Homo sapiens: one gene and its partners. The protein of the gene in region 3 interacts with the protein of the main gene of each other region in a pairwise test. Each region holds a gene or a part of one and is shown on either strand. Other genes may lie near its edges.

Region 1 (3,500 bases), on a different chromosome or scaffold from region 3:
GGTCATGTCAGCCACTATTGTATTTTTCATGCTCAAGGTCCATTATGTGCTTAAAGACATATTTGAGTCAGGCCAGGCACGGTGGCTCACGCCTGTAATCTCAGCACTTTGGGAGGCCGAGGTTGGTGGATCACGAGGTCAGGAGTTTGAGACCAGCCTGGCCAACATGGTAAAACCCTGTCTCTACTAAAAATACAAAAATTAGCCGGGTGTGGTGGCGGGCGCCTATAATACCTGGGCGACAAGAGCAAGACTCTGTCCCAAAAAAAAAGAAAAAAAAAAAAAAAAGAGAGACATATTTGAGTCGACCAAATGGTGTACTTTGAGAATTCCTGACAGGAAAATACTGACTACTTCTGCTAAGCAACCCTTGTTCAGCTGTATGGCCATTTCCATCTGAGTGCAGCCTGGCTAGTACAGGAAATGGAGCCATGTGGACTGCATGAGAAATGTATGTTCAGTAGCTACTCTCAGGCAGAAATTTCTGAAAGAATTAGTTTTTATGAATCTTAGAAATCCAGGTCTTCTCCTCATATTCTACTTACCTTTTGCAAATCAATGGAAAGCTGCTGAATGAGTGCTTGGAGCTCTTGTTCCTTTTGTTCCAGGGCTGTGATCTTACTTTCTGCACCTGTTTTTGAAGCTATCACATGATCTCTTCATCAAAAGAAAGCAGACAATGAACAAATTTGGATATCTCATCTAATATACAGTCTTCTGCAGGAAAAATACAAATGGTTTCTTCTGTGTCAGGGCTACAAGCATCATTAGCCACATGCAGGTTTTCAACGGAAAAAGCCTCGGCTCTCTCTGAAGCAGGAGCCCAAAGAGAAAAAGTCCACCCTAGTTTAAGAAAGAAATCCTGACCTGCCTTTCCTTAGTCTATTAATACTTTACAAACTAAAACCACACTGAATTGTTCAGCAGGGTGGAACTGTCCTGAGTTTCAGCAGCTGAAGGGGAAAATGGGTTGGAGGTAGGGTGAGGCCTGAGTCCTAGGCAGGTAAGGATGTGTCCAGAAGCCTTTGCCAGCACCGGAATCAGAAAGTGGTGTAATGAACAATGGGGAAAGGTGGGCAGGCTATAGCCAGAACTACACTAACACCTCTTCCCAAGGGCCCCACAGACCAAGCAAGAACCTCTGCTCTTCCAGCGTTGAGTAGTGTCTCTGCAATTCTTCTAGCTTCTGGCTTAAGTCTGATGACATCTGATTGGAGTTCATCAACTCCTCCTGGGTACGACTAAGTTCTCTGGTTCGTGCCTCCAATTCTTGTTCCATTTTCCCTAGACTTTCTTCTTTTTTTAAAAGCTGACACAAAAATACAAAGTTTCATTGGGCTATGCTAAGAAAAATACACTTAAGATCAGGCATGCTGGCTCACGCCTGTAATCCCAACACTTTGGGAGGCTGAGGCAGGTGGATCACTTGAGGTCAGGAGTTTGAGACCAGCCTTGCTGACATGGCAAAACCCTATCTCTACTAAAAATACAAACATTAGCCGGGCGTGGTGGCGGGTGCCTGTAATCCCAGCTACTCGGGAGGCTGAGGCGGGAGAATCACTTGAACCCGGGAGGTGGAGGTTGCAATTAGCCAAGATCGCGCCACTGCACTCCAGCCTGGGTGACAGAGCTAGGCTCCATCTCAAAAAAAAAAAAGAAGTAAAAAAGAAAAATACACTTAAATCTCGGCTGGATACGGTGGCTCACGCCTGTAATCCCACCATTTTGGGAGGTTGAGGCATGCATATCGTTTAAGCCCAGGAGTTTGAGAGCAGCCTGGGTAACATGGCGAAACACCACCTCTACAAAAAATACAAAAATTAGCCGGGCATGGTAGTGCGCCTGTAGTCCCAGCTACTCGGGAGGCTTAGGTGGAAGAATCCCTTGAGTCTGGGAGGTCGAGGCTGCAGTGGGCCATGATCATGCCACTGCACTCCAGCTTGGGTGACAGAGTGAGACTCTATCTCAAAAAAAAAAAAAAAAAGAAAGAAAGAAAGGAAAGAAAAAAAAAAATCTAAGCTTGTCAGGCATGGTGGCACACACCTACAGTACATGCTTACAGTTCCAGTTACTTGGGAGGCTAAAGTGGGAGGACAGCTTGAGCCCACGAATTTGAGGCTGCAGTGTGCTATGATCGCACCTGTGAGTAGCCATTATACTCCAGCCTGGGCAACACCGTGAGACTCCATCTATTTAAAAAAAAAAATGTGGACCAATAGCCAAATTTCTATAACATTTTTGTGGGCTTATAAGAGAATTTATATACCCAGTAGTTAAAAACAAAACAAAACAAAACAAAACAAAACCCAAAACAAAACAGAAAAAGAACATTTTAAACAGAACTTTTCTATTTTAATAAATTTAAAAACATACAAATATGATTAATATCAAATATGATTAATATCACATATTACTGGTGTATGTTTATCAGCAATTAGAGAGTGATGACTAGTAAAATCAGAGTGAATAATCATCTATTCAGTATTTAGCTACTAAAACAAAAATGCATACCATGTGCTTTATTTTACTTAGTTCCTGCTGCTGGAACCCCTCTAATTCATCCATTTCATCTCTCCTTTGGAAAAGATTCATACTCTGGTTCTTCATTTCCTGTAACTGGGCTGTCAGAATATTTTTCTCCTATTTGAAAGAAGAAGACATCAACTCAGGCAACGAAAGCATTAGAAATCTGTATTACGAAAGTGAAAATCTTTTCTTTTTTAAAATTTTTGTCTTTAGAGACAGAGTCTCACTAGTTGCCCAGGCTGGCCTTGAACTCCTGGGCTCATGCAATCCTCCCGCCTTGGCCTCCCAAAGTGCTAAGATTACAGACATGAGCCACCACACCCGGCCTGAAAGTGGAATTCTTAATAAAGGAAAAATCTTCAGGAAATCTCATGCCAGTGGACAATGATGCATTGATAATGGAAAGCATTACAGAAATATGGCATTATTTACAAATTCTTTAATTGAATTAATCCTTTAACTAGAGAATTTAATTCTTTATTTAAAAATAAATGTGTTTTAAATAATTGTGAAAAAGGGGAATAAAAGCAACAATTACGTAGAACTTTTTTTTTTTTTTGGTAGAGACAGGATCTTGCTCTGTTATCCAGGCTGATCTTGAACTCCTGGCCTCAAGACATTCTCCTGCCTCAGCCTCTCAAAGTGTTGATAGATATGAGCCATCGTGCATGGCCTATGTAGAACTTTAAAGTTCTTACATCTGTTTAGCAAGTCCAGATATATATTTTATGTGTCTACTCTTTCGTCGTTGTTGTTTGTTTTTTGACACAGAGTCTCACTCTGTTGCCCAGGTTGGTTTGCAGTGGTGAGATCTCAGCTTACTGCATCCTCTGCCTCCCAGGTTGAAGTGATTTTCATGCCTCAGCTTCCTGAGTACCTGAGACTACAGGCATGCACCACCATGCCCGGCTAATTTTTCTACTTTTAGCAGAGATGAGGTTTCACCATGTTTGCCAGGCTGGTCTCGAACTCCT
Region 2 (3,938 bases), on a different chromosome or scaffold from region 3:
TCCATCCTAGGATGTCCCTATTCAGCTCTGCCCTCCTTCCCACGGGGCAGTTGGACCTTTCTCCATTCACTTCTCCCTGCAGTTTCTCCCTAGAACACAAACCCACCCCACCCCCTCCACCACCCCAGGCTCCCTATCCCTTCTCCCCAGAAAAACTGCAAGTGCTCTCACCCTGGTGACCCTGCCCTCACTGATTCAAGCTCGTCACTTTAGGCTCTCCCACTGGATGGGCTGGGGCAGGTCACACTCAGGAAAGGAAGGAAAGAAAAGGGGGTTGGAAACTCAGAGCCCAAGGGAAGGGAGAATGAGCAGCCTGGCACACCCTGAAAGAGACACACCCAGAGACAGCCTTTGCTGGGGCAGGATCTTTTGGGCTCAAAATGGAAAAGGAGGGCTCTGAGAAGGAAGGGTGTATGTGCAGAGCGAGGAAGGGTGGTGGCAGGAATTAACAAGAAAGAATAGAGGAAGACAAGAAAACAGGGGTATAAAAAAGAAAGAGACCAGAGTCCAGAGAAAATTGACAAGTGGACTTCTAAGAAGTCTGGCTTGGCTGCTTCCCTACCTGTTTGTGGTGTCTTTCGGGGGACCCCTTGGCAAGGCAGCTGCGGCTGAGACGGAGGTAGCCCCCCAGAACCAAGATCTCCTCGGCAGTTGGGTACCGCTTCTTCCCAGCCCCCGGGACTGCAGCATCAACTGTGGCTGGAGAGGTTGGGGTGGCTGGGGTCGCAGGGGGCACAGACCGCCGGGGGTTGACGGTGAAGGTGTGTCCACTGCGGCGGGGGGCCCCCACCCCTGGCCCTGCCTTCACCCCATAGAACAGGCGGCTCATGAGGGGATCCCCAGGAGGTTGGGGGGCAGTTGGGGCTGGGGGTGGGGGAGACAGAGGGGCTGGTGGTGGGGGCTGGAGCTCCACTGCTTCCTCTTCCTGCTGTCTCAGGCCTCCAGTCCCAGCGTCCTCTGGTGGGAGGGGGGAGGGCACAGAGCAGCAGTTCTGCAGGGCTCTCAGAGGCCTGCCCTGAGCCCCCGCCTCCTCCTTCTCAGCCTCCCCTTCTCCAGCCTCCACACCGGGAGATTCCAGAAGCTTCTCTGCTGACTCTGGAGGTTCTGGTTTCTGAGTTTGAGCCTCTATGTCCCTGGGTGTCCATTCTCGAGCCTTCCCGGAGTTCAGGGTCCATTTCCACCCTTCTGTTGGCTTCATGCCCCTCTCGCCATCTTCCACAGGCCTCTGCTCTGCTGCCTCCACTCCTGCGGAACTGTTGCCTTGGGCCTCCCTTGTCAGGGTCTCGGACAGCTCTGCAGTCTCTTTTGGAGCTACCCCTGGAACTGGCCACTCTTCTTTTCTCCCACATTCTTCCGAGTAGTCTTGTCTTTCTTCTCCTGACCTCAGCCTCCACTCTGTTGCCTCCAGTTGTACCAAACTCTGTTCCTGAGACTCTCTGGAGTCAGGTCTCCATTTATGGGCCTCTGTCAGGCCCAACTTCTGGTAGGCAGATTCCCCTGGGCTCAGTCTACTTTCCACCTCTTTTCTCCTGGGGCTTTGCTCTCGAGACTCTGCTAGTCTCAGACTCCGCTCTGGAGTTTCTCCAGGACTCAGCCTCCATTTCCATGCCTCTGACAGTCGGGAGCTCCTGTCTCCCACCTCTCCTGGGCTTTGCCTCCAGTCCCGAGCCTCCAGAGGCCTCAGGCTCAACTCTTGGGCTCCCCCTATCCCCAGCCTCCTCTCTCTGGTCTCCCTCGGACTTAGTCTCTCTTCTCTTGACTCTCTTCCCTTGGGGCTCTGATCCCGCATCTCCCCAGGGCTGGGTCTCCGCTCCCGGGCCTCCAGAGGCCCAGGCTTTCTCTCTGCTAGCAGCTCTTCACTCCGTTGTTGTTGCTGCTGCTGCTGCTGCCGCTCCTGCCGGATGAATCGGTTCTGGTGCACTGGCCCGATGGCCTCCAGAAGGACCGCAGACTCATCCGGGTCTGGAGGTCCAGCCTCTACAGTCCCTAGCACAGGGCTAGGCTCCCCAGGGGACAGCCCAAGCTTGGCCCGGCGGCGCTCCAGGAGCCCTCGTTTCCAGGCTGGCATCTGGGACAGGCGCTCCCGTTCTGCTTTCTCTCGGCCTCGAACGGACGCCTCCTCCTGCCGGCGCCGGGCTAGCAGCTGTAGCTTCCAGTCTGGGATGGTGGCCATGGTCGTCTTGAGGTGAGGGTAGGGAGCACTGGGGACAGAGAACAGGAAGGAGAGGCTCCAGAGAGTGAGACAGCCCGGGGGTGAGACTGAGGGTGGGAGGAGAGGAAGTGGAGGGGGAGAGGTGGGACACAAAGCAGGGCAGAGGGGCTAAGGATGAGGACAGAGGGAAAGACGGAAGGCAGAGAACTGGGGAAATGGAAAAAGTGAAGAGAAGTTGTGAGCCCAAGTTGGGGGTGGTGGGGGTGATGTGAGAGGAAGAGTCCGGATTGGAGGCAATGAGGGCAGGAGCCAGATGTGGCAGCACAGGGTTAATGCGTATTAAAGACCGTCTCTAGGATGTGAGAAAGAGAGAGAAGGGCGAAAAGGAAAGTTGGCGTGAGGGAGAAGAGAGAAATGTGGCAGGGGTGAGGGGAACCTGGGTGCAGGCCAGGCTGCCTCAGCGATACCCCAGGGAGGCTAGTGTGGGAAGGAAGGACCAGGAATCCCTGAAAGGACCAGGAGGCAACGGGACCTGAGGGGGTGTTGGGGAGGCAAGGAGGGGCGGAGAGCGAACAGGTCTAGAGGAGAAGGGAAACCAGGGAAGAGGGGAAAGGAGGGCGGCGGCAGCAGCCGGGCGCGTCTCAGCGCGGGCCCCAAAGGTCCCGGCTCCGCTTCCAGCACCGCTCGGGCCACGCCTCTCCCCAGCCCCCACCCCTCTGCCCCGCACTCCGCCCCCGAGGCGGGTCGGGGGAAATAGCCACCCCCGAGACTTTCGGAACCCGGGCGTCAGGGCTGCCAGCGCGTTCCCAGAACCCTGGCGTCCACCCCCACCCTGTCCTGTCACCACCGCCTGCCTCCCCCACCGACTGCCCCACGCGACCCCAGAGTGCCAAGGGCCGGCTCCATGTCTCTTCTCCCCGGCGCCTGCAAGTCCTGCGCCCCGTCCCCGCTCTCATGAAGCCGTGACAGAGCCGGCCGTCTCCACCCCGCTGTAGCCGCACAGACTGACAATCTCGGCACAAAGAGGAGACAGCCAAGGTCCGGGCCAGGGACGGGAGCAAGGACAGGGGCGAGGAGACACCCACTCCCCAAGTCTGAGCCCCTCAGTCAACTCACAGGCCGCGGGACCCCCGGGGGAGGGGGTGCGGAGGAGCCGGGCGTCCAGAGAGAGGAAGAGGAGGAGAGAGGGACCGAGGGAGATCCGGAGACTGGAGGGAGGGGAGGAGGGAGGGAGAGGAGGAGGGAAAGAGGCAGCAAAGGAGGAGGGACGGAGACAGAGACCAGGGGGCCGGGCGGGGGCGGCGACCGCTTTGTCTAAGGACAATGAGGAGAGGGAAGGGGGCGCAGGGCGGAGCCGAGGAGAGGGCGGGGCCTAGATCCCTCCCACCCCGCGTGGGACTCGCTGCGGGACTGCCCTCTTCTCGCCCCAACCACTGGTCCTCCGCTCTGTCCCCAGGGGCCCTCACCAGCTTCCCGCCCGGACACGCCAGGTGTCCAGATCCCTTCCCCCAGCTCGCCGACCCAGGGCGGTGGCCCGTGACTCAGGCCCCTCGTGGGACTTTGGGAGGAAGCGGCAGCTGCTCCGAGCGGGGCCCGCCCTTCCCATCTCCTGCCGCTCCTCCCTACGCTTTTGCCTTCTCATCTGGGTCTGTAGGTCCAGCCTCTGAAGTCCTTTGTTTTGCGGGGTCGAGGGCAGCCGCCAGGCTGTGGGGGGCTTTGTGGATGGGCGGCAGGAGAGGCGCTCAGAAGCCAGAGGTTTTGGATGCTCCCTCCCCTACCAGAGCTG
Region 3 (3,243 bases):
ACGCACTCTTCAAACCCTTGAGATTGAACTTCAGTCCCTCTTAGCAACGGTAAGCGAAAAGTTACAAAACAGATTTGCTTTAGAAATTGAGAAAAAAATAATCGAAGAGAATTTTCTTCCAACATAATTACATATTTTAGTTTTTAACCATTAATTACAGTGCTTGACATAAGACATATTTGCATTTTGCACATGACAATCCTCTTTGCCTACAAAGTATAGCTGGATGCCAATAATTATGAAATATTAGAAATTAGCAAATACAGTCAAGATACTGGAAAAAGAAAATCGTTTTGACTTTGAATCTTCTATCATAAGTCAAAATATCAAAAACCACTCATATGTGGAGGCTAAAAAAGTTGATCTCAGAAGTAGAGAGTGGGATAAGTGCTTACTAGAGCCTGGGAAGGGGATGGGGGGATAGGAAGAGGTTGGTTAAAGGATACAAAATTACAGAGAAATAGGGAGAATCAGTTCAAGTGTTCTATAGTACTGTAGAATGACTACAGTTAAGAATAATTTATTCTATAATTTCTAATAGTTCAAGGAGAGGATTTTGAATGTTCCCAACACACACAAAAAAGATAAATGTTTGGGACCATGGATATGCTAACTGCCCTGATTCTATCACTACACATTGTGTGTTTTGAAATATAATTATGGAACCCCATAAATATATACAATTCTTATGTGTCCATTTAAAAAAAAAGAAAAAAAATCCTACTGCTTAAAGAGAGCAAAAATACATTTGCACCACTCCTAGCTTCATCTAGCATTCCTTTTGGCCACTCAATTAAGAGCACTTACAAGTTCCTTTGTAAGTGGCATAGACAGAGGAAAAGTCGAGGCATGAAGGCTGACTATAAAACTAAACATGTGTAATGATAATCATAACTGCTTTCATTAAGGGTTTGCCCAGCACTTCCGCCCACATGTGAGTCCACAACAACCCCGGGGCATGGGCAGGGCAGACGTTATAACTCATGTCATTATTTCCAAAAGAGGACTCTGAGATTCGAAGAAGTTAAGCAATTCCCACAGTCCCACAGTTGGGTATGAAGGAATCCAGAAGTTCTCTCCAAATTTTCTAACTCCCAAGTCTATACTTTTCCCACTATGGCTAGTAAACCACCAGAGTTTATCCACAGATGAGGCTATGAATGTATATAAAATCAAGACTTTATATAAAAAATACTTGCAGGTGAAAGGATAAGACACTCTCATCTTCATTCCATGTAAAATTGCAGTGAGTGTTCCCTCTGAGTATATCTGTAAACCCATTCAGATTCACAAGCCAATGAATTGAACTACTGTATTTAAAGTCTAAGAAGGTAATTATTTTCTGTGGTTTATTCTACTCATGGAACGTTTATGCGGTTTACTGCAGGATGACTTTTTAATAGAAGAGCTACAATCCTCATAAGACAAGACTGTCACATGGCTAGAAATGAGTAGCAAAGTATAGGCGGACTTCTAGTTGTGGGTAAAGTAGCAAATTGTGCCACACTCTACAAGCACAGGCTATATTGGTGCAGGGGAGGGATCTTTCAGTCTGTGCCCTATGAAGAGACAATTTCATCTTTTTTAGCACACCTGGGCATCTGAGGGACATTCAGCACCAGCTGTGTCATTCTCAAATAGAAAAGTAGTAGGACATTTAATAAAGGCAACAATTAATATTGAAGAAGTGGAATCTTTTGGGTAAATATAATTATTTGCATGATGTAAGGATAATTCTCTTAATTATCTCTTAAATGCTTTGGCTTATTCTAAAACACCGTGACCTTTTCTATTAAACCATGTCTTACCAAACTACAGAAACACTCCCTGGAGTGCTCCTTGACAGAGACCGAGAGTAACTACTGTGCACAGCTGGCACAGATCCAGGCTCAGATCGGGGCCCTGGAGGAGCAGCTGCACCAGGTCAGAACCGAGACCGAGGGCCAGAAGCTCGAGTATGAGCAGCTCCTTGACATCAAGGTCCACCTGGAAAAAGAAATTGAGACCTACTGCCTCCTGATAGATGGAGAAGATGGGTCAGTATTGCCGCCATTGAGAAAACAATTCATTTTTAAGGTTACTAAAGATGATTTGAAATCAAGTACAAAATATCTATGATCTAGATCACGCATAGATAATACTCTTTTAGTGTTATTTCAGAATGCAGTGAATTCCCACCTTAAATCATTATTTTTCAGTTTCCTCAGTAAAACAGAATAATTAATATAAGCGCTCTATACTTTTACAGCTCCTGTTCTAAATCAAAAGGCTATGGAGGCCCAGGAAATCAAACAAAAGGTAAACAAAAGCTGTGTTAGGCATTCAGTGTTTATTTGTATGTGTTTCAAATGATGTTTTATTTCCTATTTATGAATTTGATAAATTCTAAACAGTTTATATGTGGCATTTTAGATTCATCTAAAACCACCATTGTCAAAACAGTTGTTGAAGAGATAGATCCTCGTGGCAAAGTTCTCTCATCCAGAGTTCACACTGTGGAAGAGAAATCCACCAAAGTCAACAACAAGAATGAACAGAGGGTGTCTTCCTGAACTCCAGCCTCTGAGACAGAATGGCCCCCAAATTAAAATACCAAAATGAAGCTAGTTTCCTAAATAAGGGTCCCCTTATTTTTCTGCTTTTCTTCCAATGAATTAAGACAAGTTATTTTTAGAATAGTACCATTTCTTTGGCTTTTTCTCTATGGTGGTGTTTCAATAAAAGTTCTTCCTGTTGCAAGTCATCTTCCCTGGTTCTGGCCAATCTTTGCATTTTAGATATACCCTCCCAAATGGAAGCTGAATTTTGTCTTTAATTTCTTCTGTTTAATTCAACAGTCTTCACAAGTTGGAAGTAAGTTTAATGTGAAAACTAGTTGGAGTCTTTTTGACTTCTCTGTAAAATTTTGTCTCCTTTGTCTCAGTACGAAAAGTACTTACTGAGAACACGCTATGTGCCAGATAACGAGGATAAAACAGTTAATAAGATCCAGTCCCTGAAGTCAATATGCTCATAGATGTAGAAATAAGAACCTGAAGAATCAGAAACAAACTTAAACATAAAGGAAAGGCTATAAGTAGTGATATTTGAAGGTAGAAGGGGAAAAAGAGAGCTGTGAGGACAAGGGTAAGAGGAGAATTCCAGCAGGCATCTAATTCATAATCTTGATCACTCCACCATAACGGTAGGAATTCACAAGTTCTCTCCTTCGTTTTTGCCATCCAAGACTGCAGAGCCATGTGG
Region 4 (3,500 bases), on a different chromosome or scaffold from region 3:
CATGCACCTGTAGTCCTAGCTACTTGGGGGGCTGAGGTGGGAGGATTGCTTGAGCCCAGGAGGTTGAGTCTGCATTGTGCCATGATTGCACCACTGCACTTCAACCTGGGCAATAGAGCAAGACCCTGTCTCAAAAAAAAAAAGCATGTAAAATATCATCTAGTATGGTTATGATTATGTAAAAACATCATCTAGTATGGTTATGATTATGTAAAAAGAAAATTGTGGACCAGGCACAGTAGCTCACTCCTATAATACTAGCACTTTGGGAAGCCAAGGCAGGAGGATCACTAAAGGCTGGAAGTTCAAGACCAGCCTAGGCAGCAAAGTGAGACCCTGTCTTAACAAAAACAAAAACCCCAGCTGGACGCGGTGTCTCATGCCTGTAATCCCAGCACTTTGAGAGGCCGAGGTGGGTGGATCACGAGGTCAGGAGCTTGAGACCAGCCTGGCCAAGATGGTGAAACCCCGTCTGTACTAAAAATATAAAAATTAGCCGGGCGCAGTGGCAGGCACCTGTAATCCCAGCTACTCGGGAGGCTGAGGCAGGAGAATCGCTTGAACCCGGGAGGCGGAGGTTGCAGTGAGCCGAGATCGCGCCACTGCACTCCAACCTGGGTGACAGAGCAAGAGCAAGACTCTGTATCAAAAAAAAAAAAAAATTACTGTGGAGGAAAAACAGATATACAAGTATCAAGAGTAGTTACGTAAGGGTGATTCTTTTTGTTCTCTATTTTTGAAATGTTTCGTAATGTGCTTTTACTACTTTATAATGAATAGAATACAAAAAAAATAAGCCAAGAACCCAATACTTTCTGTAAATGGAAAGGGTAAAAGATCTGCACTTTACTTTTCCACAATTCTATCCCATTGATTCTACTGTGTGCTCAATTTCCCATGGCAGTTACGACACGTGGATCCCAGCGAGTGAAATTGAGGCATCTGTGGAAGATGCTCCAACTCCTGAGAAACCTAGGAAGGTGAGCTTTTCTTGTATCCCCTCTTCCCCAAAAAGAATGCCAGGAACAGTCTACCCTTTGGAAGTGAAACAGAGGCTTGTATGCCCTTGAGCTTTTTCTGTTAAGGGTCCCCAGACAGAGCTGTGGCTTCCAGGCTTCTCTGCAGCATGATCTGCCTTTGTACTTTAGGTTCATGCAAAGTGGATCCTGGACACCGACACCTTCAATGAATGGATGAATGAGGAAGACTATGAAGTAAATGATGACAAAAACCCTGTCTCCCGCCGAAAGAAGATTTCAGCCAAGACACTGACAGATGAGGTGACAAATCCTGTTCTTTTTTTCCTGGCGCCCTTAGCATAAGTCTCAGAACAAATCTTCAGTGGGGATTGTAGGCTGACATTTGTCCTGATTCTCCATCCTATAGGTGAACAGCCCAGATTCAGATCGACGGGACAAGAAGGGGGGAAACTATAAGAAGAGGAAGCGCTCCCCCTCTCCTTCACCAACCCCAGAAGCAAAGAAGAAAAATGCTAAGAAAGGGTGTGCCAGCCCCTAGCCTGCCCCCGTGTTCACCATTCTCTCCACATCATGTTGAAGGAAGGAAAGACAAATCCCTTCCTATAACCACCTGGCCCTGACCTGGGTGTGCCATAATACTGCAGGTGTCCTGAGAGGGAAGATGAGGAGATCTTTAGCTGCTCAGTTGTTAGTTCTGGTTCTGGCCCCACTAGTACATTTAAAGAGAGCTTTATCAAGTGAAAAGCCTTTGCCACTTCCCATTACTGTGTGATTACTGGTTTCTGTTTGTACTCAGCTCTACCCTTGGAATTCTCTGTCACTTCCCTTCCCTTGAACTTCAACTTCCAGGGACTCCTTGTCCAAGGATGACTGGGTTCTCTTTCACTCTCTTTCCTTCCCAGTCCCTCAACACCTTACACTAAGTCAAAGCGTGGCCACAGAGAAGAGGAGCAAGAAGACCTGACAAAGGACATGGACGAGCCCTCACCAGTCCCCAATGTAGAAGAGGTGACACTTCCCAAAACAGGTACAGGCCAGGCTGAGCTCCTGGGATCCACCCCCACTCCCCGTCTTGACTCTCCTTTGCCAAACCCCAAGTGAGCTGATTTCTCAGGTCCACCTCCCAGTCTACAGGATCTTTTCCTTAAATTTAGCTGGTTATTGGAATTACGGTCATTACCCTGGAAAATCCTCTAACTGTATATTCATATCTGAGTTGTGGACTGTGCTTTGTGCCTGATAGTAGTTGTCTCCAAACTCTTTGATTATGTGTTTCTGACAGTAAAATATATTTGAGCATGGCCAGGCACGGTGGCTTATGACTGTAATCCCAGCATTTTGGGAGGCCGAGGCGGGCGGATCACCTGAGGTCAGGAATTCGAGACCAGCCTGGCCAACATGGTGAAACCCCATCTCTACTAAAAATACAAAAATTAGCTGGGCGTGGTGGTGGGCACCTGTAATCCCAGCTACTCGGGAGACCGAGGCAGGAGAATTGCTTGAACCTGGGAGGTAGAGGTTGCAGGGAGCCGAGATTGTACCACTGCACTCCAGCCTGGGCGACAAGAGCAAAACTCCATCTCAAAAAAAAAAAGGGCCGGGCACGGTGGCTCATGCCTGTAATCCCAGCACTTTGGCAGGCCGAGGTGGGCGGATCACGAGGTCAGGAGATCGAGACCATCCTGGCTAACATGGTGAAACCCTGTCTATACCAAAAATACAAAAAAATTAGCTGAGCGTGGTGGCGGGTGCCTGTAGTCCTAGCTACTCAGGAGGCTGAGGCAGGAGAATGGCGTGAACCTGGGAGGCGGAGCTTGCAGTGAGCTGAGATCACGCCACTGCACTCCAGCCTGGGCAACAGGGCGAGACTCCATCTCAAATAAAAAAAAAGAAAAAAAAATGTATATATGCATTAATTATGTACTTGTACTGTTAAGCCGCTACCATGGGAACGTTTTAAAACACAAACATATCTAAAAAATTGAAAAATGTAAAGAATGATAAAAACAAACATGAAGAATCAGGGCGCGGTGGCTTACGCCTGTAATCCCAGCACTTTGGGAGGCCGAGGCAGGCGGATCACGAGGTCAAGAGATCAAGACCATCCTGGCTAACACGGTGAAACCCCATCTTTACGAAAAATACAAAAATTTGCCAGGCGTGGTGGTGGGCGCCTGTAATCCTAGCTATTCGGGAGGCTGAGGCAGGAGAATCACTTGAATCTGGGAGGTGGAGGTTGCAGTGAGCCGAGATCGCACCACTGCACTCCAGCCTGGGCGACAGAGCGAGACTCCGTCTCAAAAAAACAAAACAAAAAACATGAAGAGAAGTTCTGTATTCTCTCCCTGAGTTGCAGTGGATCATCTTTTGCGTCCTATGTTAGAACCCCACTTTGGAGACATTGCTCCACCAATACTGGTTTACAGTCTGTATTCTGTAGACTCACCCCAGGTATTCCAGAAGTGTATTTCAGGGGTAGGATTAGGGCTGCCACCAAGAAGAGTTCTGGCTTCTACCTCC
Region 5 (3,500 bases), on a different chromosome or scaffold from region 3:
AAAAGAGAATGGTTCTATTACCCGAGAAAATGATTTTATATTTTATTACCTGCTTCAGTTCTCTGACCTCGTCCTTCAAGGCGTAAACAGTATCAACAAGGCTCCTAGAAAATAAAGATAAAATTCAGAGACAAATGGCTTGCACTGAGGTACTGTTAAAATACTTAACAATAAAAGCCACTTTATAAAAATACAGATCCTGAAAAACAGTGGACTTTCTAGCTGATTGGGAATGGTACTGCTCTAAATGGTTTCCATCTTCTTGACTTTGATGGAAGAACAACCACCACCACACATGCTTAGCTAAATGCAATGTCATTACACCTTTTCTATACTTCCCTCCTCCTTTTCTACTCACTTCCCAGCTTGGGTGAACAAAACACAAGAGACTAGGGCCCGTCACTAAGTTTTTCTTTTTCTAGCTTTGTTGAGGGATAATTGACAAAGCTGTACAATGTGATGTCTTGATATATGTATACATTGTGAAGTGGTTACCATAATCAAGCTAATTAACATATCCATCTCCTCACATAGTTACCTTTTGTATGTGTGTGGTGGAAATCTACACTCTTAGCAAACTTCAAGTATACTCCATTGTAAACTATGCAGTCTTCCCTCCCTCGGTATCCATGGGGTATTGGTTCAAGGACCCCCATGGATACCAAAATCCACAGATGCTCAAGTCCTTAACATAAAATGGCATAGTATTTGCATATAACCAATGCACATCTTCCCATACACTTTAAATCATATCTAGATTACTTATCATACCTAATACAATGTAAATGCTATGCAAATATTTGTTATACCATATTTCTTAGGAAAAAACAATATGGTATAACAGTGCATACATATATCAAGACATCACATTGTACACCTTTGTCAATTATCCCTCAACAAAGGCGGAAAAAGAAAAACTTTACTAGGTATGAAAAAAATCTGTACATGTTCAATACAGATGCAACCATCCATTTTTTTCTGAATATCTTTTTGATCTGGGGTTGGTTGAATCCACAGATGCAGAGCCCACGCATGCAGAGGGCCAACTGTAGTCAACATGCTGTACATTAGTTCTCCAGAACTTATTCATCCTGCATACCTGAGATTTGGTACCCTTTGACCAACATCTCCCCATTTCCCCTTTCCCCTCAGTCCCTAGAAACTACCATTCTGCTCTCTGTTTTTAGGAGTTCGACGTTTTCAATTCCCGTCATAAGGTTTTGATTTCTCTAGCTTTGGGGCAGGAATGAACATCACCTATCATATAATGAGAGGTATCACAAGATTGCCTAGTCTACAGTATCTGTGCTATGACATTGCCCTTCCCAGTTCTCTGACTGCACATGACACAAAGTCAGAGGCATTCTTTCTGGAATATCTCAACCATACAGTACCCAAAAAAGTAATTTTTTGGTAATTACTGGGTTGCAGAACAGCCTTTTCCTCTCTGGGTCTCTCCCTGGACAAAGATTTTGGAGATCTAAGTTTTGGTTCTGATCCTGCCACTTACTAGTCCTCTGTTCTCTGGGAACCAGTTTCCTTCTCATCCTCTCTTGGTCTTAGTTTCTTTACATGTAAAATGGGGATAATAGCACATTTTCTGAAAACCTCACAAAGTTGTAAAAATGAATATCGTTATAATAAGAATTAACTAACATTATTTATTGAGCTAGCCTTTATACTTATTTCACTTAACCTCACAACAACTCTGAAAGCATTACCGTCATCCTTATTTTACAGATGAGGAAACTGAGGCACAGAGAGGTGAAGCAACTTGCCCCAGGTCACACAGCTAATGAGTAGCAGAAGTGGGAGTTGAACCACACTGTTTTTTGCTTGAGCCCAAGTACTTAACCATTTTGCTGTATCACTTCACACATCAGATGTAAAATGCATTGACAATGCCAAGCACCTTGAAATATGCTGTCCTATGCAAATTTAGGCCTGACTTCAGAAATGACTCAAGTTTAGACAAATGAATTATTTGGCTACTTTGTGTTAATTTTATGAGCCAGAAGGTACTTAACCTGATTTTCCCCCATTAGGTCACCCACACTACTGTGTAAAGGTAAGTCAGAGACATAATTTCCCTGAACTTCCTGTACCTCAGTTTCTTTATCTGTGAAAGTGGTGAGAGTAATGTTTATCTAACCGGATTGCTGTAGGATTTTAAATGATGTCAAAAATGTGAAAGCACAGCTTCTGACTCAAAACATGTGAGTGGCATCTCTCCGGGCAAGGAAATTGGTTCTGTGGCTGGAATTCCCAGCCACTTCCTAAACCCATCCAGGGCATTGATATTCCCATGTGCTCAGAAGCAGCTTACTGGATGGGGAGCTGGCTGCAGGGGCAGCTGCCAGCTGGAGCTGCCTTGGAGGGCTCTGTCACCGCTGCTTTTCCTTCCTCTTTCCATTTGTTAGTGGGCAGCCCTCTAAAGTCTCCCAAATGCATGCACAGCAAAGCAGGCCGCATTCCCAGGTAAGGAGGAGTTGTCCCTCATCATAGACTCTCCAGGAGCTCCCCGTCCTACCAGACCTTCTTGCCAGCCCCAAGAGAAACTAGGCAAGGTTTTGCCTGCTCTACTCACTTTTCTTCCATGATGGTCTGGCCGTTGCTTCTGGTTTCTTCAATGATGAGTTTCTCTTCCTCAGGGAGTAGGACTTGTGGAATGGAATCTTTTCGAGTACCTACAAACAAGGGTTGCAAGATGGGGGAGGAGGGAGAGTTACTAGTGAAGAGTAGAAATAGTGGGTGTTAGTTCTTTTCCACTATTGTTACAGAAGGGTCTTTGTTCATAGCATGTTGCTACATTACACCCAGAGGACAGTCACCCATCATTTGCTGACTAAATTTTCCTGACATGAGAAATTCTAAATGGCCAAATACACTGATTCAATCTTCCCGAGGTGGGAAGCATTTTGTATTCAGAAAAATAATGCAAAAGAGCCCCTGTAATACCTGTCCACAACCAAGACCTCCATTCTTTCCTGTTTTGCCTCCTCCAGAGCAAAGAGCTGACCAGTGATCACTCTTCCCTGCAAATCTCCAAGGAAGGACACACTACATCCTATGCTACAGTGTTTTGTCATTGTAGTAAAAGGTTGACAGTAGCACTGCACTGAAACACAATGTGCTTAAAGGGCCTCAGAAGCATCATCACCCCCATTTGTTCTCTTTACAGTCTTATAGGGTAAGGTAGGTATGTCTCCTAAGACCATTTTCATCAAGGGTGGAGTGAGGTTTGGAGATTATCACATCATCAGCAAAGATGTAGGTGTCCTCTGCCCAGAATGTCTCCAGGCTCTGGGACAGAAGAGGTGACAGAACAGGCATGGGGGCCCAACCAAACAGCTCTCCTGCACCTCCCTCACTCTGGATCCTCCCTCTCAGAGCTCAAGTGCTTAATCTTGGGTCTCCCTGAGCCACTGGCTTCCTCTCTTCTAGGCCAAGTTCCTTCAGAGGTGTGCACACTCACTGCCTTCACTTGACCACCTCCCCTT
Region 6 (3,500 bases), on a different chromosome or scaffold from region 3:
CACCTGTAGTCCCAGCTGCTTGGGAGGCTGAGACAGGAAAATTGCTTGAACCCGGGAGGTGGAGGTTGCGGTGAGCCGAGATCATGCCACTGCACTCCAGGCTGGGTGACAGAGCAAGACTCCATCTCAAAAAAAAAAAAAAAAAAAGATGCTGCGGCCGGTGCAGTGATTCACACCTAAAATCCCAACACTTTCAGAGGCTGTTGTGGGAGGATCACTTGAGCCCAGGAATTCAAGGCTGCAGTGAGCCGTGATCACGCCACTGCACTGCAGCCTGGGCGACAGAGCAAGACCCTGTCTCTAAAAATTAAAAATAAAAATGCTACTATGAACATTCATGTACAAGCTTTTGTGTGGACAAAGGTTCTTGGTTCTCTTGGATATACATCCAGGAGGGGAACTGCTGGGTCCTGCAGAAATGCTTTCACTTGTTGAGGAACCGCCAGGCTGCTTGCAAAGCTGTTGCATTTTCCATTCCCACCAGCAGTGTGTGAAGGTTCAGCCTGCCGTACTTTAATGATTATTGGTGACACTCTTTCAAGTAACTTGTTGGTAATAAGAAGTCAATTAACCAGGAGAGACCAGCTGCATCTCAACCATAATAACATCAGAGAACCCAGCGGGTGTCTGAGGGGAGCGTTTATTTCAAGCTACCGATGGGACAAACACTCCCAGGCTTCCCAGGTGCCACTGTCCGGGGCGGCATCCTCACTTCCAGCGGCCTCCAACGCGGCCCTTCCCTGCCCCCTTCCGGCTGTAGAAGAATGAGGTGGTATCAGGAAAAAGGGGCCCCTCCAGTCTCTGAAATGGGCCCCAGGCCCTCAATTCAGGAAGCCCATTCCCCAAAATATTAGCCCTCCCTGCCCAGAGGAAGCAGTGAGCAAAACAACTGTCACCTCTTTTGGGTTCTATGACTGGGGGGCAGCGGCTGGTGGTCAAAGCCTCGCTGACATGTGGGAGCTGATATTTGGGGGCGAGTGCAGGGTGTTCATGGGGGAGCTGATGAATGTTTATGAGTCAGGGGCCAGGGTGGGGGGAGGAAGGGTTGGATGATCTGGGCATGGGTGGGTAACACGCAGGAAGGGCTGGGGTGAAAGAGACAGGAAATGGGAGAAGAGGAGAAGGGAGAGGGAGAGGAGGGAGGAAGGAAGAGGGAGTGGAGAAACAGAGAGATTCAGGGAAGACCCTCTCGGCTGGGCGCGGTGGCTCACGCCTGTAATCCCAGCACTTTAGGAGGCCAAGGCGGGTGGATCACGAGGTCAGGAGTTCGAGACCAGCCTGACCAACATGGTGAAACCCCGTCTCTACTAAAAATACAAAAATTAGCCACGCTTGGTGGCGCGCACCTGTAATCCCAGCTACTCAGGGGGCTGAGGCAGGAGAATCGCTTGAACCCGGGAGATGGAAGTTGCAGTGAGCTGAGATCACTCCACTGCACTCCAGCCTGGGTGACAGAGCGAGACGCAGTCTCAATAAAAAAAAAAAAAAAGAAAGAAAAAGAAAAAGGAACTGAGACCCAGGATTCCGAGAGCAGAGAGAGGAGGACAGAGAAGGAAGGACAAAGAGAAAGGGGCAGAAACTCAGGCAGTGGGGGATGGAGCCCACAGAGGGAGGGAAAGAGGCCTGAGAGTCAGCGGGAGGGTAGGGACAAGAGCAAGGGCTTGAGACGGTCACACTCACAACTTCTGGGCGTGGCTGATGCGGTTGTACAGCACGTTGATCTGCGGAGGCAGAAGACAGATGCTGGGACAGCCGGTGGGGACGTGGGGACGGGCCACCCACCCCTGCCTGGAGTTTGCTGGTCCCTCCCAGCCCAGCCCTGCCCTCTCTCCCTCCCTCCCTGCGGAGCTGGGTCTCACCTCATATTTCTGCTGTTTCAGCTTCGCCATCAGGTCGAACTTCTCAGACTCCAGCTGGTGGATCCAGTCCGACAGCTCCTGGGCTTTCTCCCTGGCAGGGCAGGAGGGCTGTGATGGAGGCAGCCAGGCAGACCGGGCCCTAGGCCCAGGGACGGAGAGGAACTTGGGCCCAGAGAGGTTGTGGGAACCACCCAAAGCCACACAGCGAGACTGTGAGTTCAGCGTTGTCGGCACCATTTTGTTCATATTTGAGGCCGAGAGTTTTAAAATCTGTGCCCACTTTCTCCACATCCGAGCTGGAGCTCTCGCATTTCCCAAGGGGAGAGAAGGGTGTCATGATTAAGAGACCAGGCTCGGCACCTGTAATCCCAGCACTTTGGGAGGCAGAGGCCAGCAGAACACTTGAGCCCAGGAGTTCAAGACCAGCCTGGGCAACAAAGAGAGACCCCGTCTCTGCTAAAAATAATTAAAAAAATTAGCCAGGCAGGGTGTTTCCGGCTACTTGGGAGGCTGAGGCAGAAGGAACCTGGGAGGTCAAAGCTGCAGTGAGCTGTGATTGCACCACTGTATTCCTGCCTGGCAACAGAGCAAGACAAAAGAAAGGAAAGAAAAGGAGAAAGGAAAGTGGGGAGGGGAGGGGAGAGGAGAAGAGGGGAGGGGAGAGGAGAAGAGGGGAGGGGAGAGGAGAAGAGGGGAGGGGAGAGGAGGGAAGAAGAAGGGGAGGGAGGGAGGGGAGGGGAGACGAGGGGAGGGGAGGGGAGGGGAGACGAGGGGAAGGGAGGGGAGGGGAGAGGGGAAAGAAAAGGAAGAAAGAAAAGACCGAGCCCAGGCTCTGCAGTTAGAAGCCCCTGGTTCAATTCCCAGCCATGCCATTCTCTGGTTTATGAATATGTCACATGACTTCCTTTAGAATCCTGTTTCCTTCTCTAGAAAATATGGAAATAAAACTGTGGAAGAGATGGCTGCTTGCCTACCTGTTAGCCCTTCTCCCTTTCTTCTAGAAATAGCCTCTTGTGCATTAGGCTGAGTTGAAAAACTACTTTGCCCAATCTCCCTTGCAGGTAGGGGTGGCTACTCAGACGAAAGCAGGTCACTGGGTGCGGCTTCCAAAAGAGACTGTGTGGCTCTTCTCTTGCGTCTTCTTTCTGCTGCTTGGATCATCCATGTGAGGCTGGAGCTAGCAGCTATATTGGACTAAGTGATTTTGAGGATGGAAATATTGGGCTAAAAGTAGTGAGTGAAGCAGAAAACATAGGAGTCTGGTCTCTGATTTTGTAGAATTGCCATACCAGCCCTGGACTAAAACCTACCTTTCCTTCCTTCCTTCCTTCCTTCTTTTCTTTCTTTTCTTTTTTTTTTGATAGGGTCTCACTTTGTCACCCAGGCTGGAGTGCAGTGACACCATCACAGCTCACCGCAGTCTCAACCTCTCAGGCTCTAGTGATCCTCTCACCTCAGCCTTTTTTTTTTTTTTTTTTTAAGACAGAGTTTCGCTCATGTCGCCCAGGCTGGAGTGCAGTGGTGCCATCTCGGCTCACCGCAACCTCCGCCTCCTGGGTTCAGTGATTCTCCTGCCTCAGCCTCCAGAGTAGCTGGGATTACAGGCGCCTGCCACCACGCCCGGCTAATTTTTGTATTTTT
Region 7 (3,500 bases), on a different chromosome or scaffold from region 3:
GGGCTAAGACTTGAACCCAAGTTGTTTGCACATAGAGTCTAGGCAATGAAATCTCACATCTGCAGTGATGGGAATGCGCTGTGATCTACCGTGCCAATACAGTAGCCACTGGCCACATGTGGCTACCAAGCCCTTGAAATGCGGCCAGTGTGAATGAGAAACTAAATGTTTCATTTTCTTTTATTTTATTTTATTTTTTTTTTTGAGACGGAGTCTCACTCTGTCGCCCAGGTTAGAGTGCAGTGGCACGATCTCGCCTCACTGCCAGCTTTGCCTCCCAGGTTCATGCCATTCTCCTGCCTCAGCCTCCCGAGAAGCTGGGACTACAGGCGCTCGCCACCATGTCCTGCTAATTTTTTGTATTTTTAGTAGAGATGGGGTTTCACTGTGTTAGCCAGGACGGTCGCGATCTCCTGACCTCGTGATCCGCCCGCTTCGGCCTCCCAAAGTGCTGGGATTACAGGCGTGGCCACTGCGCCCGGCAAATGTTTCATTTTCAAAGTGTTAATTCATTTAACTTTTTTTTTTTTTTTTTTTTTGAGACGGAGTTTCACTCCTGTTGCCCAGGCTGGAGTGCAGTGGCGCGATCTTGGCTCGCTGCAATCTCCGCCTCCTGGGTTCAAGTGATTCTCCTGTGTCCACTTCCTGAGTAGCTGGGATGACAGGCATGTGCCACCATGCCCAGCTAATTTTTTTGTATTTTTAGTAGAGATGGGGTTTCACTATGTTGTTCAGGCTAGTCTTGAACCCCCGACCTCAGGTGATCTGCCTGCCTCAGCCTCCCAAAGTGCTGGAATTTCAGGCGTGAGCCACCATGCCCGGTGCTCTTAGCTACCGTATTGAACCACACAGATCTACAGATTTCCACTTGTTCCTGCAGGGCAGGGTCTTTCAGGCGCATCCCTTCCCCACCTTGTCCTTTGTTTGCAGGATTGGAGAAGCGGTTAAGTAAAGGGCTTGTGCTCAAGGCAGGCTGTCCGAGTTTAAACCCCAGCTGCATGGCTTCCTAGCGGGGTGACCACGGCCAAGTTACTTCACTGCTTGAATCTCAGTTTCTTCCTCAGCTATAGACTGTGGATGATCCGCGTATCTCCCTTGCAGAGCTGTCAAAAGGACTCAGGGAGACCATGGTTGTGCAAAGCACTTAGTGTAATGTCTAGCATGGAATAAGCACTCTAATAATTATTGATGTCAGAGTCACTGATGTCTGTGCCTCAATTTCACTCATCTGAGAAATGGGCAAAATTATAGATCTACGTCATGGAGCTCATGCAGATTTCCTTCCCTCCTTTCTCCCTTCCTCCCTTCTTCTCTCTCTCTCTTTTTTTTTTTTTTTTAACAGAGTCTTTCTCTGTTGCCCAGGCTGGAGTGCAGTGGTGCGATCTCAGCTCACTGCAACCTCCGCCTCCCAGGTTCAAGCAGTTCTCCTGCCTCAGCCTCCCGAGTAGCTGGGATTACAGGCGCCTGCCACCACACCTATTATTATTATTATTATTATTATTATTATTATTATTATTATTATTATTATTTTGAGACAGAGTCTCACTCTGTTGCCCAGGCTGGAGTGCAGTGGCGCAATCTCGGCTCACTGCAAGCTCTGCCTCCTGGGTTCACGCCATTCTCCTGCCTCAGCCTCCCGAGTAGCTGGGACCATAGGTGCCTACCACCACGCCTGGCTAATTTTTTGTATTGTTAGTAAAGACAGGGTTTCACCGTGTTAGCCAGGATGGTCTCGATCTCCTGACCTCGTGATCTGCCCGCCTCAGCCTCCCAAAGTGCTGGGATTACAGGCGTCAGCCATTGCAGCCAGCCTAATCATGCTTAACTTTACTAAATACTGCTGGATTGTCTTTATCAAACAGCTCTGTCCAGTGGGGTTGCCTGTCTTCCCACATCCTCACTCACACTGGATAATACCCACCTTTCTCATTCTCCTCTGTACTTGCCATTGTTTTAATTTGTATTTTCTGGTTCCTGATGAGCGTGGGCATTTCTAAATACACTCAGCCATTTGGGCTTCCTTTTCTGGGAATCACCTGTTTTCCTCTTTCTCATCTAGGGTTTCCTATCATTTTCCTATTTGTCACAGTGACTTATGCCATCTAGGCTGGGGTTTCTCAACCTCGGTACTATTGTAATTTAGGGCTGGGTGGTTCTTTGTTATGGGGAATGTCGTGTGCATTGTGAATGTTTATCACCACCCCGGCCTCTACCGATCAGGTGCCAATGGGTAGCCTCTCACTTCCTGCCATGACAATCCAAAATATCTTCAGATATTGCCAAATTCCCCTTGGGGGCAAAATCGACCCTAGTTGATGACCAGCGGTCTAGATAATAACCTCTTGGTTCTGTTTTTGTCTTTATTTGAGACAAGGTCTCGCTCTGGCACCCAGGCTGGAATACAGTGGCACAACCACAGCCTCGAGCACCCAGGCTCAAGGGATCCTCCTGCCTCAGCCTCCCAAGCAGCTGGGACCACACGTGCGTACCACCACACCCAGCTAATGTTCATATCTTGGGGGGCTCACCATGTTGCCCAGGCTGCTCTCAAACTCCCGAGCTTAAGCAATCCTCCCAACTCGGCCTCCCAAAGTGCTGTGATTACAGGCATGAGCCACCATGCTCAGCCGATAACCCTTTGTTTTAGGGTATATTTCTGCTGAGTCTTTCTGGGGTAAGGGTTCCAGTGGGGAGTCTGGAATCTGTCTCTTTACCCCAGGACAAATACCGTCCCAGTCTCCTCACCCCAGCCACGTGTCTCACCTGTGTCTCCATGGACTCTCAGAGTTGGAGGACTGCCTGGGCTCCTGGTGGTGCCAGCCCCAAGAGTTGGTCCTAGTTTGCCTGCGGTAGGGGTCCCCTCAGCCAGGCCCCTTCCTGATGGTGTGTCCCACGTCCAGGGAAGCTTGTAACCATCTTTGCTGCCTAGAGAGATATGGGGAAGAGGATTGAGTCTTCCAACTTCCCTTTGAGTTTGACTCCCCGTCTCTCTCCTCCTGGGCCAGCCCCAGTTCAGGCATCATCCCGTCTCAACTGCACCGCCACTGCAGCCCTACCTGACCTCGTGGAGACCTTCTCCATTCAGCTGGGATGTTTTTGGCTACCAACGACGGAAACGGTCACTAAACTAGCACATAAAATGAAGGGCATTTGGGCCTGGCGCCGTGGCTCAAGCTTGTAATCCCAGCACTTTGGGAGGCTGAGGCAGGCAGATCACTTGAGGTCAGGAGCTCAAGACCAGCCTGGCCAACATGGAGAAACCCCATCTGCACTAAATATACAAAAAATTAGCTGGGTATGGTGGCACACGCCTATAATCCCAGCTACTCGGGAGGCTGAGACAGGAGAATCACTTGAACCTGGGAGACAGAGGTTGCAGTGAGCCAAGACTGTGCCACTGCACTCCTGCCTGGGTGACAGAGCGAGACACCGCCTCAAAAAAAAAAAAAAAGGAATTTATTATTTTAATTCCTCAAGGCTCCTGCCCTAGCGGGGGAAAA

Evidence for each region.
Region 1: the proteins of KRT27 (region 3) and GOLGA1 interact in binary tests that used the Homo sapiens proteins (3 or more experiments, as listed by UniProt).
Region 2: the proteins of KRT27 (region 3) and PPP1R18 interact in binary tests that used the Homo sapiens proteins (3 or more experiments, as listed by UniProt).
Region 4: the proteins of KRT27 (region 3) and SMARCC2 interact in binary tests that used the Homo sapiens proteins (3 or more experiments, as listed by UniProt).
Region 5: the proteins of KRT27 (region 3) and ARHGEF6 interact in binary tests that used the Homo sapiens proteins (3 or more experiments, as listed by UniProt).
Region 6: the proteins of KRT27 (region 3) and TNNT1 interact in binary tests that used the Homo sapiens proteins (3 or more experiments, as listed by UniProt).
Region 7: the proteins of KRT27 (region 3) and SSC5D interact in binary tests that used the Homo sapiens proteins (3 or more experiments, as listed by UniProt).

Annotation. Positions count from the first base shown.
Region 1 is NC_000009.12:124,920,584-124,924,083, forward strand, and holds part of GOLGA1 (golgin subfamily A member 1), read right to left. Parts: intron 2,641-3,500; coding exon 2,512-2,640; intron 1,310-2,511; coding exon 1,140-1,309; intron 658-1,139; coding exon 546-657; intron 1-545. UniProt on the Homo sapiens protein: Involved in vesicular trafficking at the Golgi apparatus level. Involved in endosome-to-Golgi trafficking. Mechanistically, captures transport vesicles arriving from endosomes via the protein TBC1D23.
Region 2 is NC_000006.12:30,683,846-30,687,783, forward strand, and holds the start of PPP1R18 (phostensin), read right to left. Parts: upstream 2,801-3,938; 5' UTR 2,202-2,800; coding exon of another isoform or gene 2,174-2,201; coding exon 563-2,173; intron 1-562.
Region 3 is NC_000017.11:40,776,308-40,779,550, reverse strand, and holds the end of KRT27 (keratin, type I cytoskeletal 27), read left to right. Parts: coding exon 1-49; intron 50-1,818; coding exon 1,819-2,036; intron 2,037-2,248; coding exon 2,249-2,298; intron 2,299-2,412; coding exon 2,413-2,552; 3' UTR 2,553-2,743; downstream 2,744-3,243.
Region 4 is NC_000012.12:56,179,484-56,182,983, reverse strand, and holds part of SMARCC2 (SWI/SNF complex subunit SMARCC2), read left to right. Parts: intron 1-904; coding exon 905-980; intron 981-1,148; coding exon 1,149-1,280; intron 1,281-1,386; coding exon 1,387-1,502; intron 1,503-1,882; coding exon 1,883-2,007; intron 2,008-3,500. UniProt on the Homo sapiens protein: Involved in transcriptional activation and repression of select genes by chromatin remodeling (alteration of DNA-nucleosome topology).
Region 5 is NC_000023.11:136,669,433-136,672,932, forward strand, and holds part of ARHGEF6 (rho guanine nucleotide exchange factor 6), read right to left. Parts: intron 2,688-3,500; coding exon 2,588-2,687; intron 105-2,587; coding exon 50-104; intron 1-49. UniProt on the Homo sapiens protein: Acts as a RAC1 guanine nucleotide exchange factor (GEF).
Region 6 is NC_000019.10:55,132,207-55,135,706, forward strand, and holds the end of TNNT1 (troponin T, slow skeletal muscle), read right to left. Parts: intron 1,999-3,500; coding exon 1,860-1,998; intron 1,722-1,859; coding exon 1,681-1,721; intron 755-1,680; coding exon 709-754; 3' UTR 492-708; downstream 1-491. UniProt on the Homo sapiens protein: Troponin T is the tropomyosin-binding subunit of troponin, the thin filament regulatory complex which confers calcium-sensitivity to striated muscle actomyosin ATPase activity.
Region 7 is NC_000019.10:55,512,436-55,515,935, reverse strand, and holds part of SSC5D (soluble scavenger receptor cysteine-rich domain-containing protein SSC5D isoform 1 precursor), read right to left. Parts: intron 2,926-3,500; coding exon 2,764-2,925; intron 1-2,763.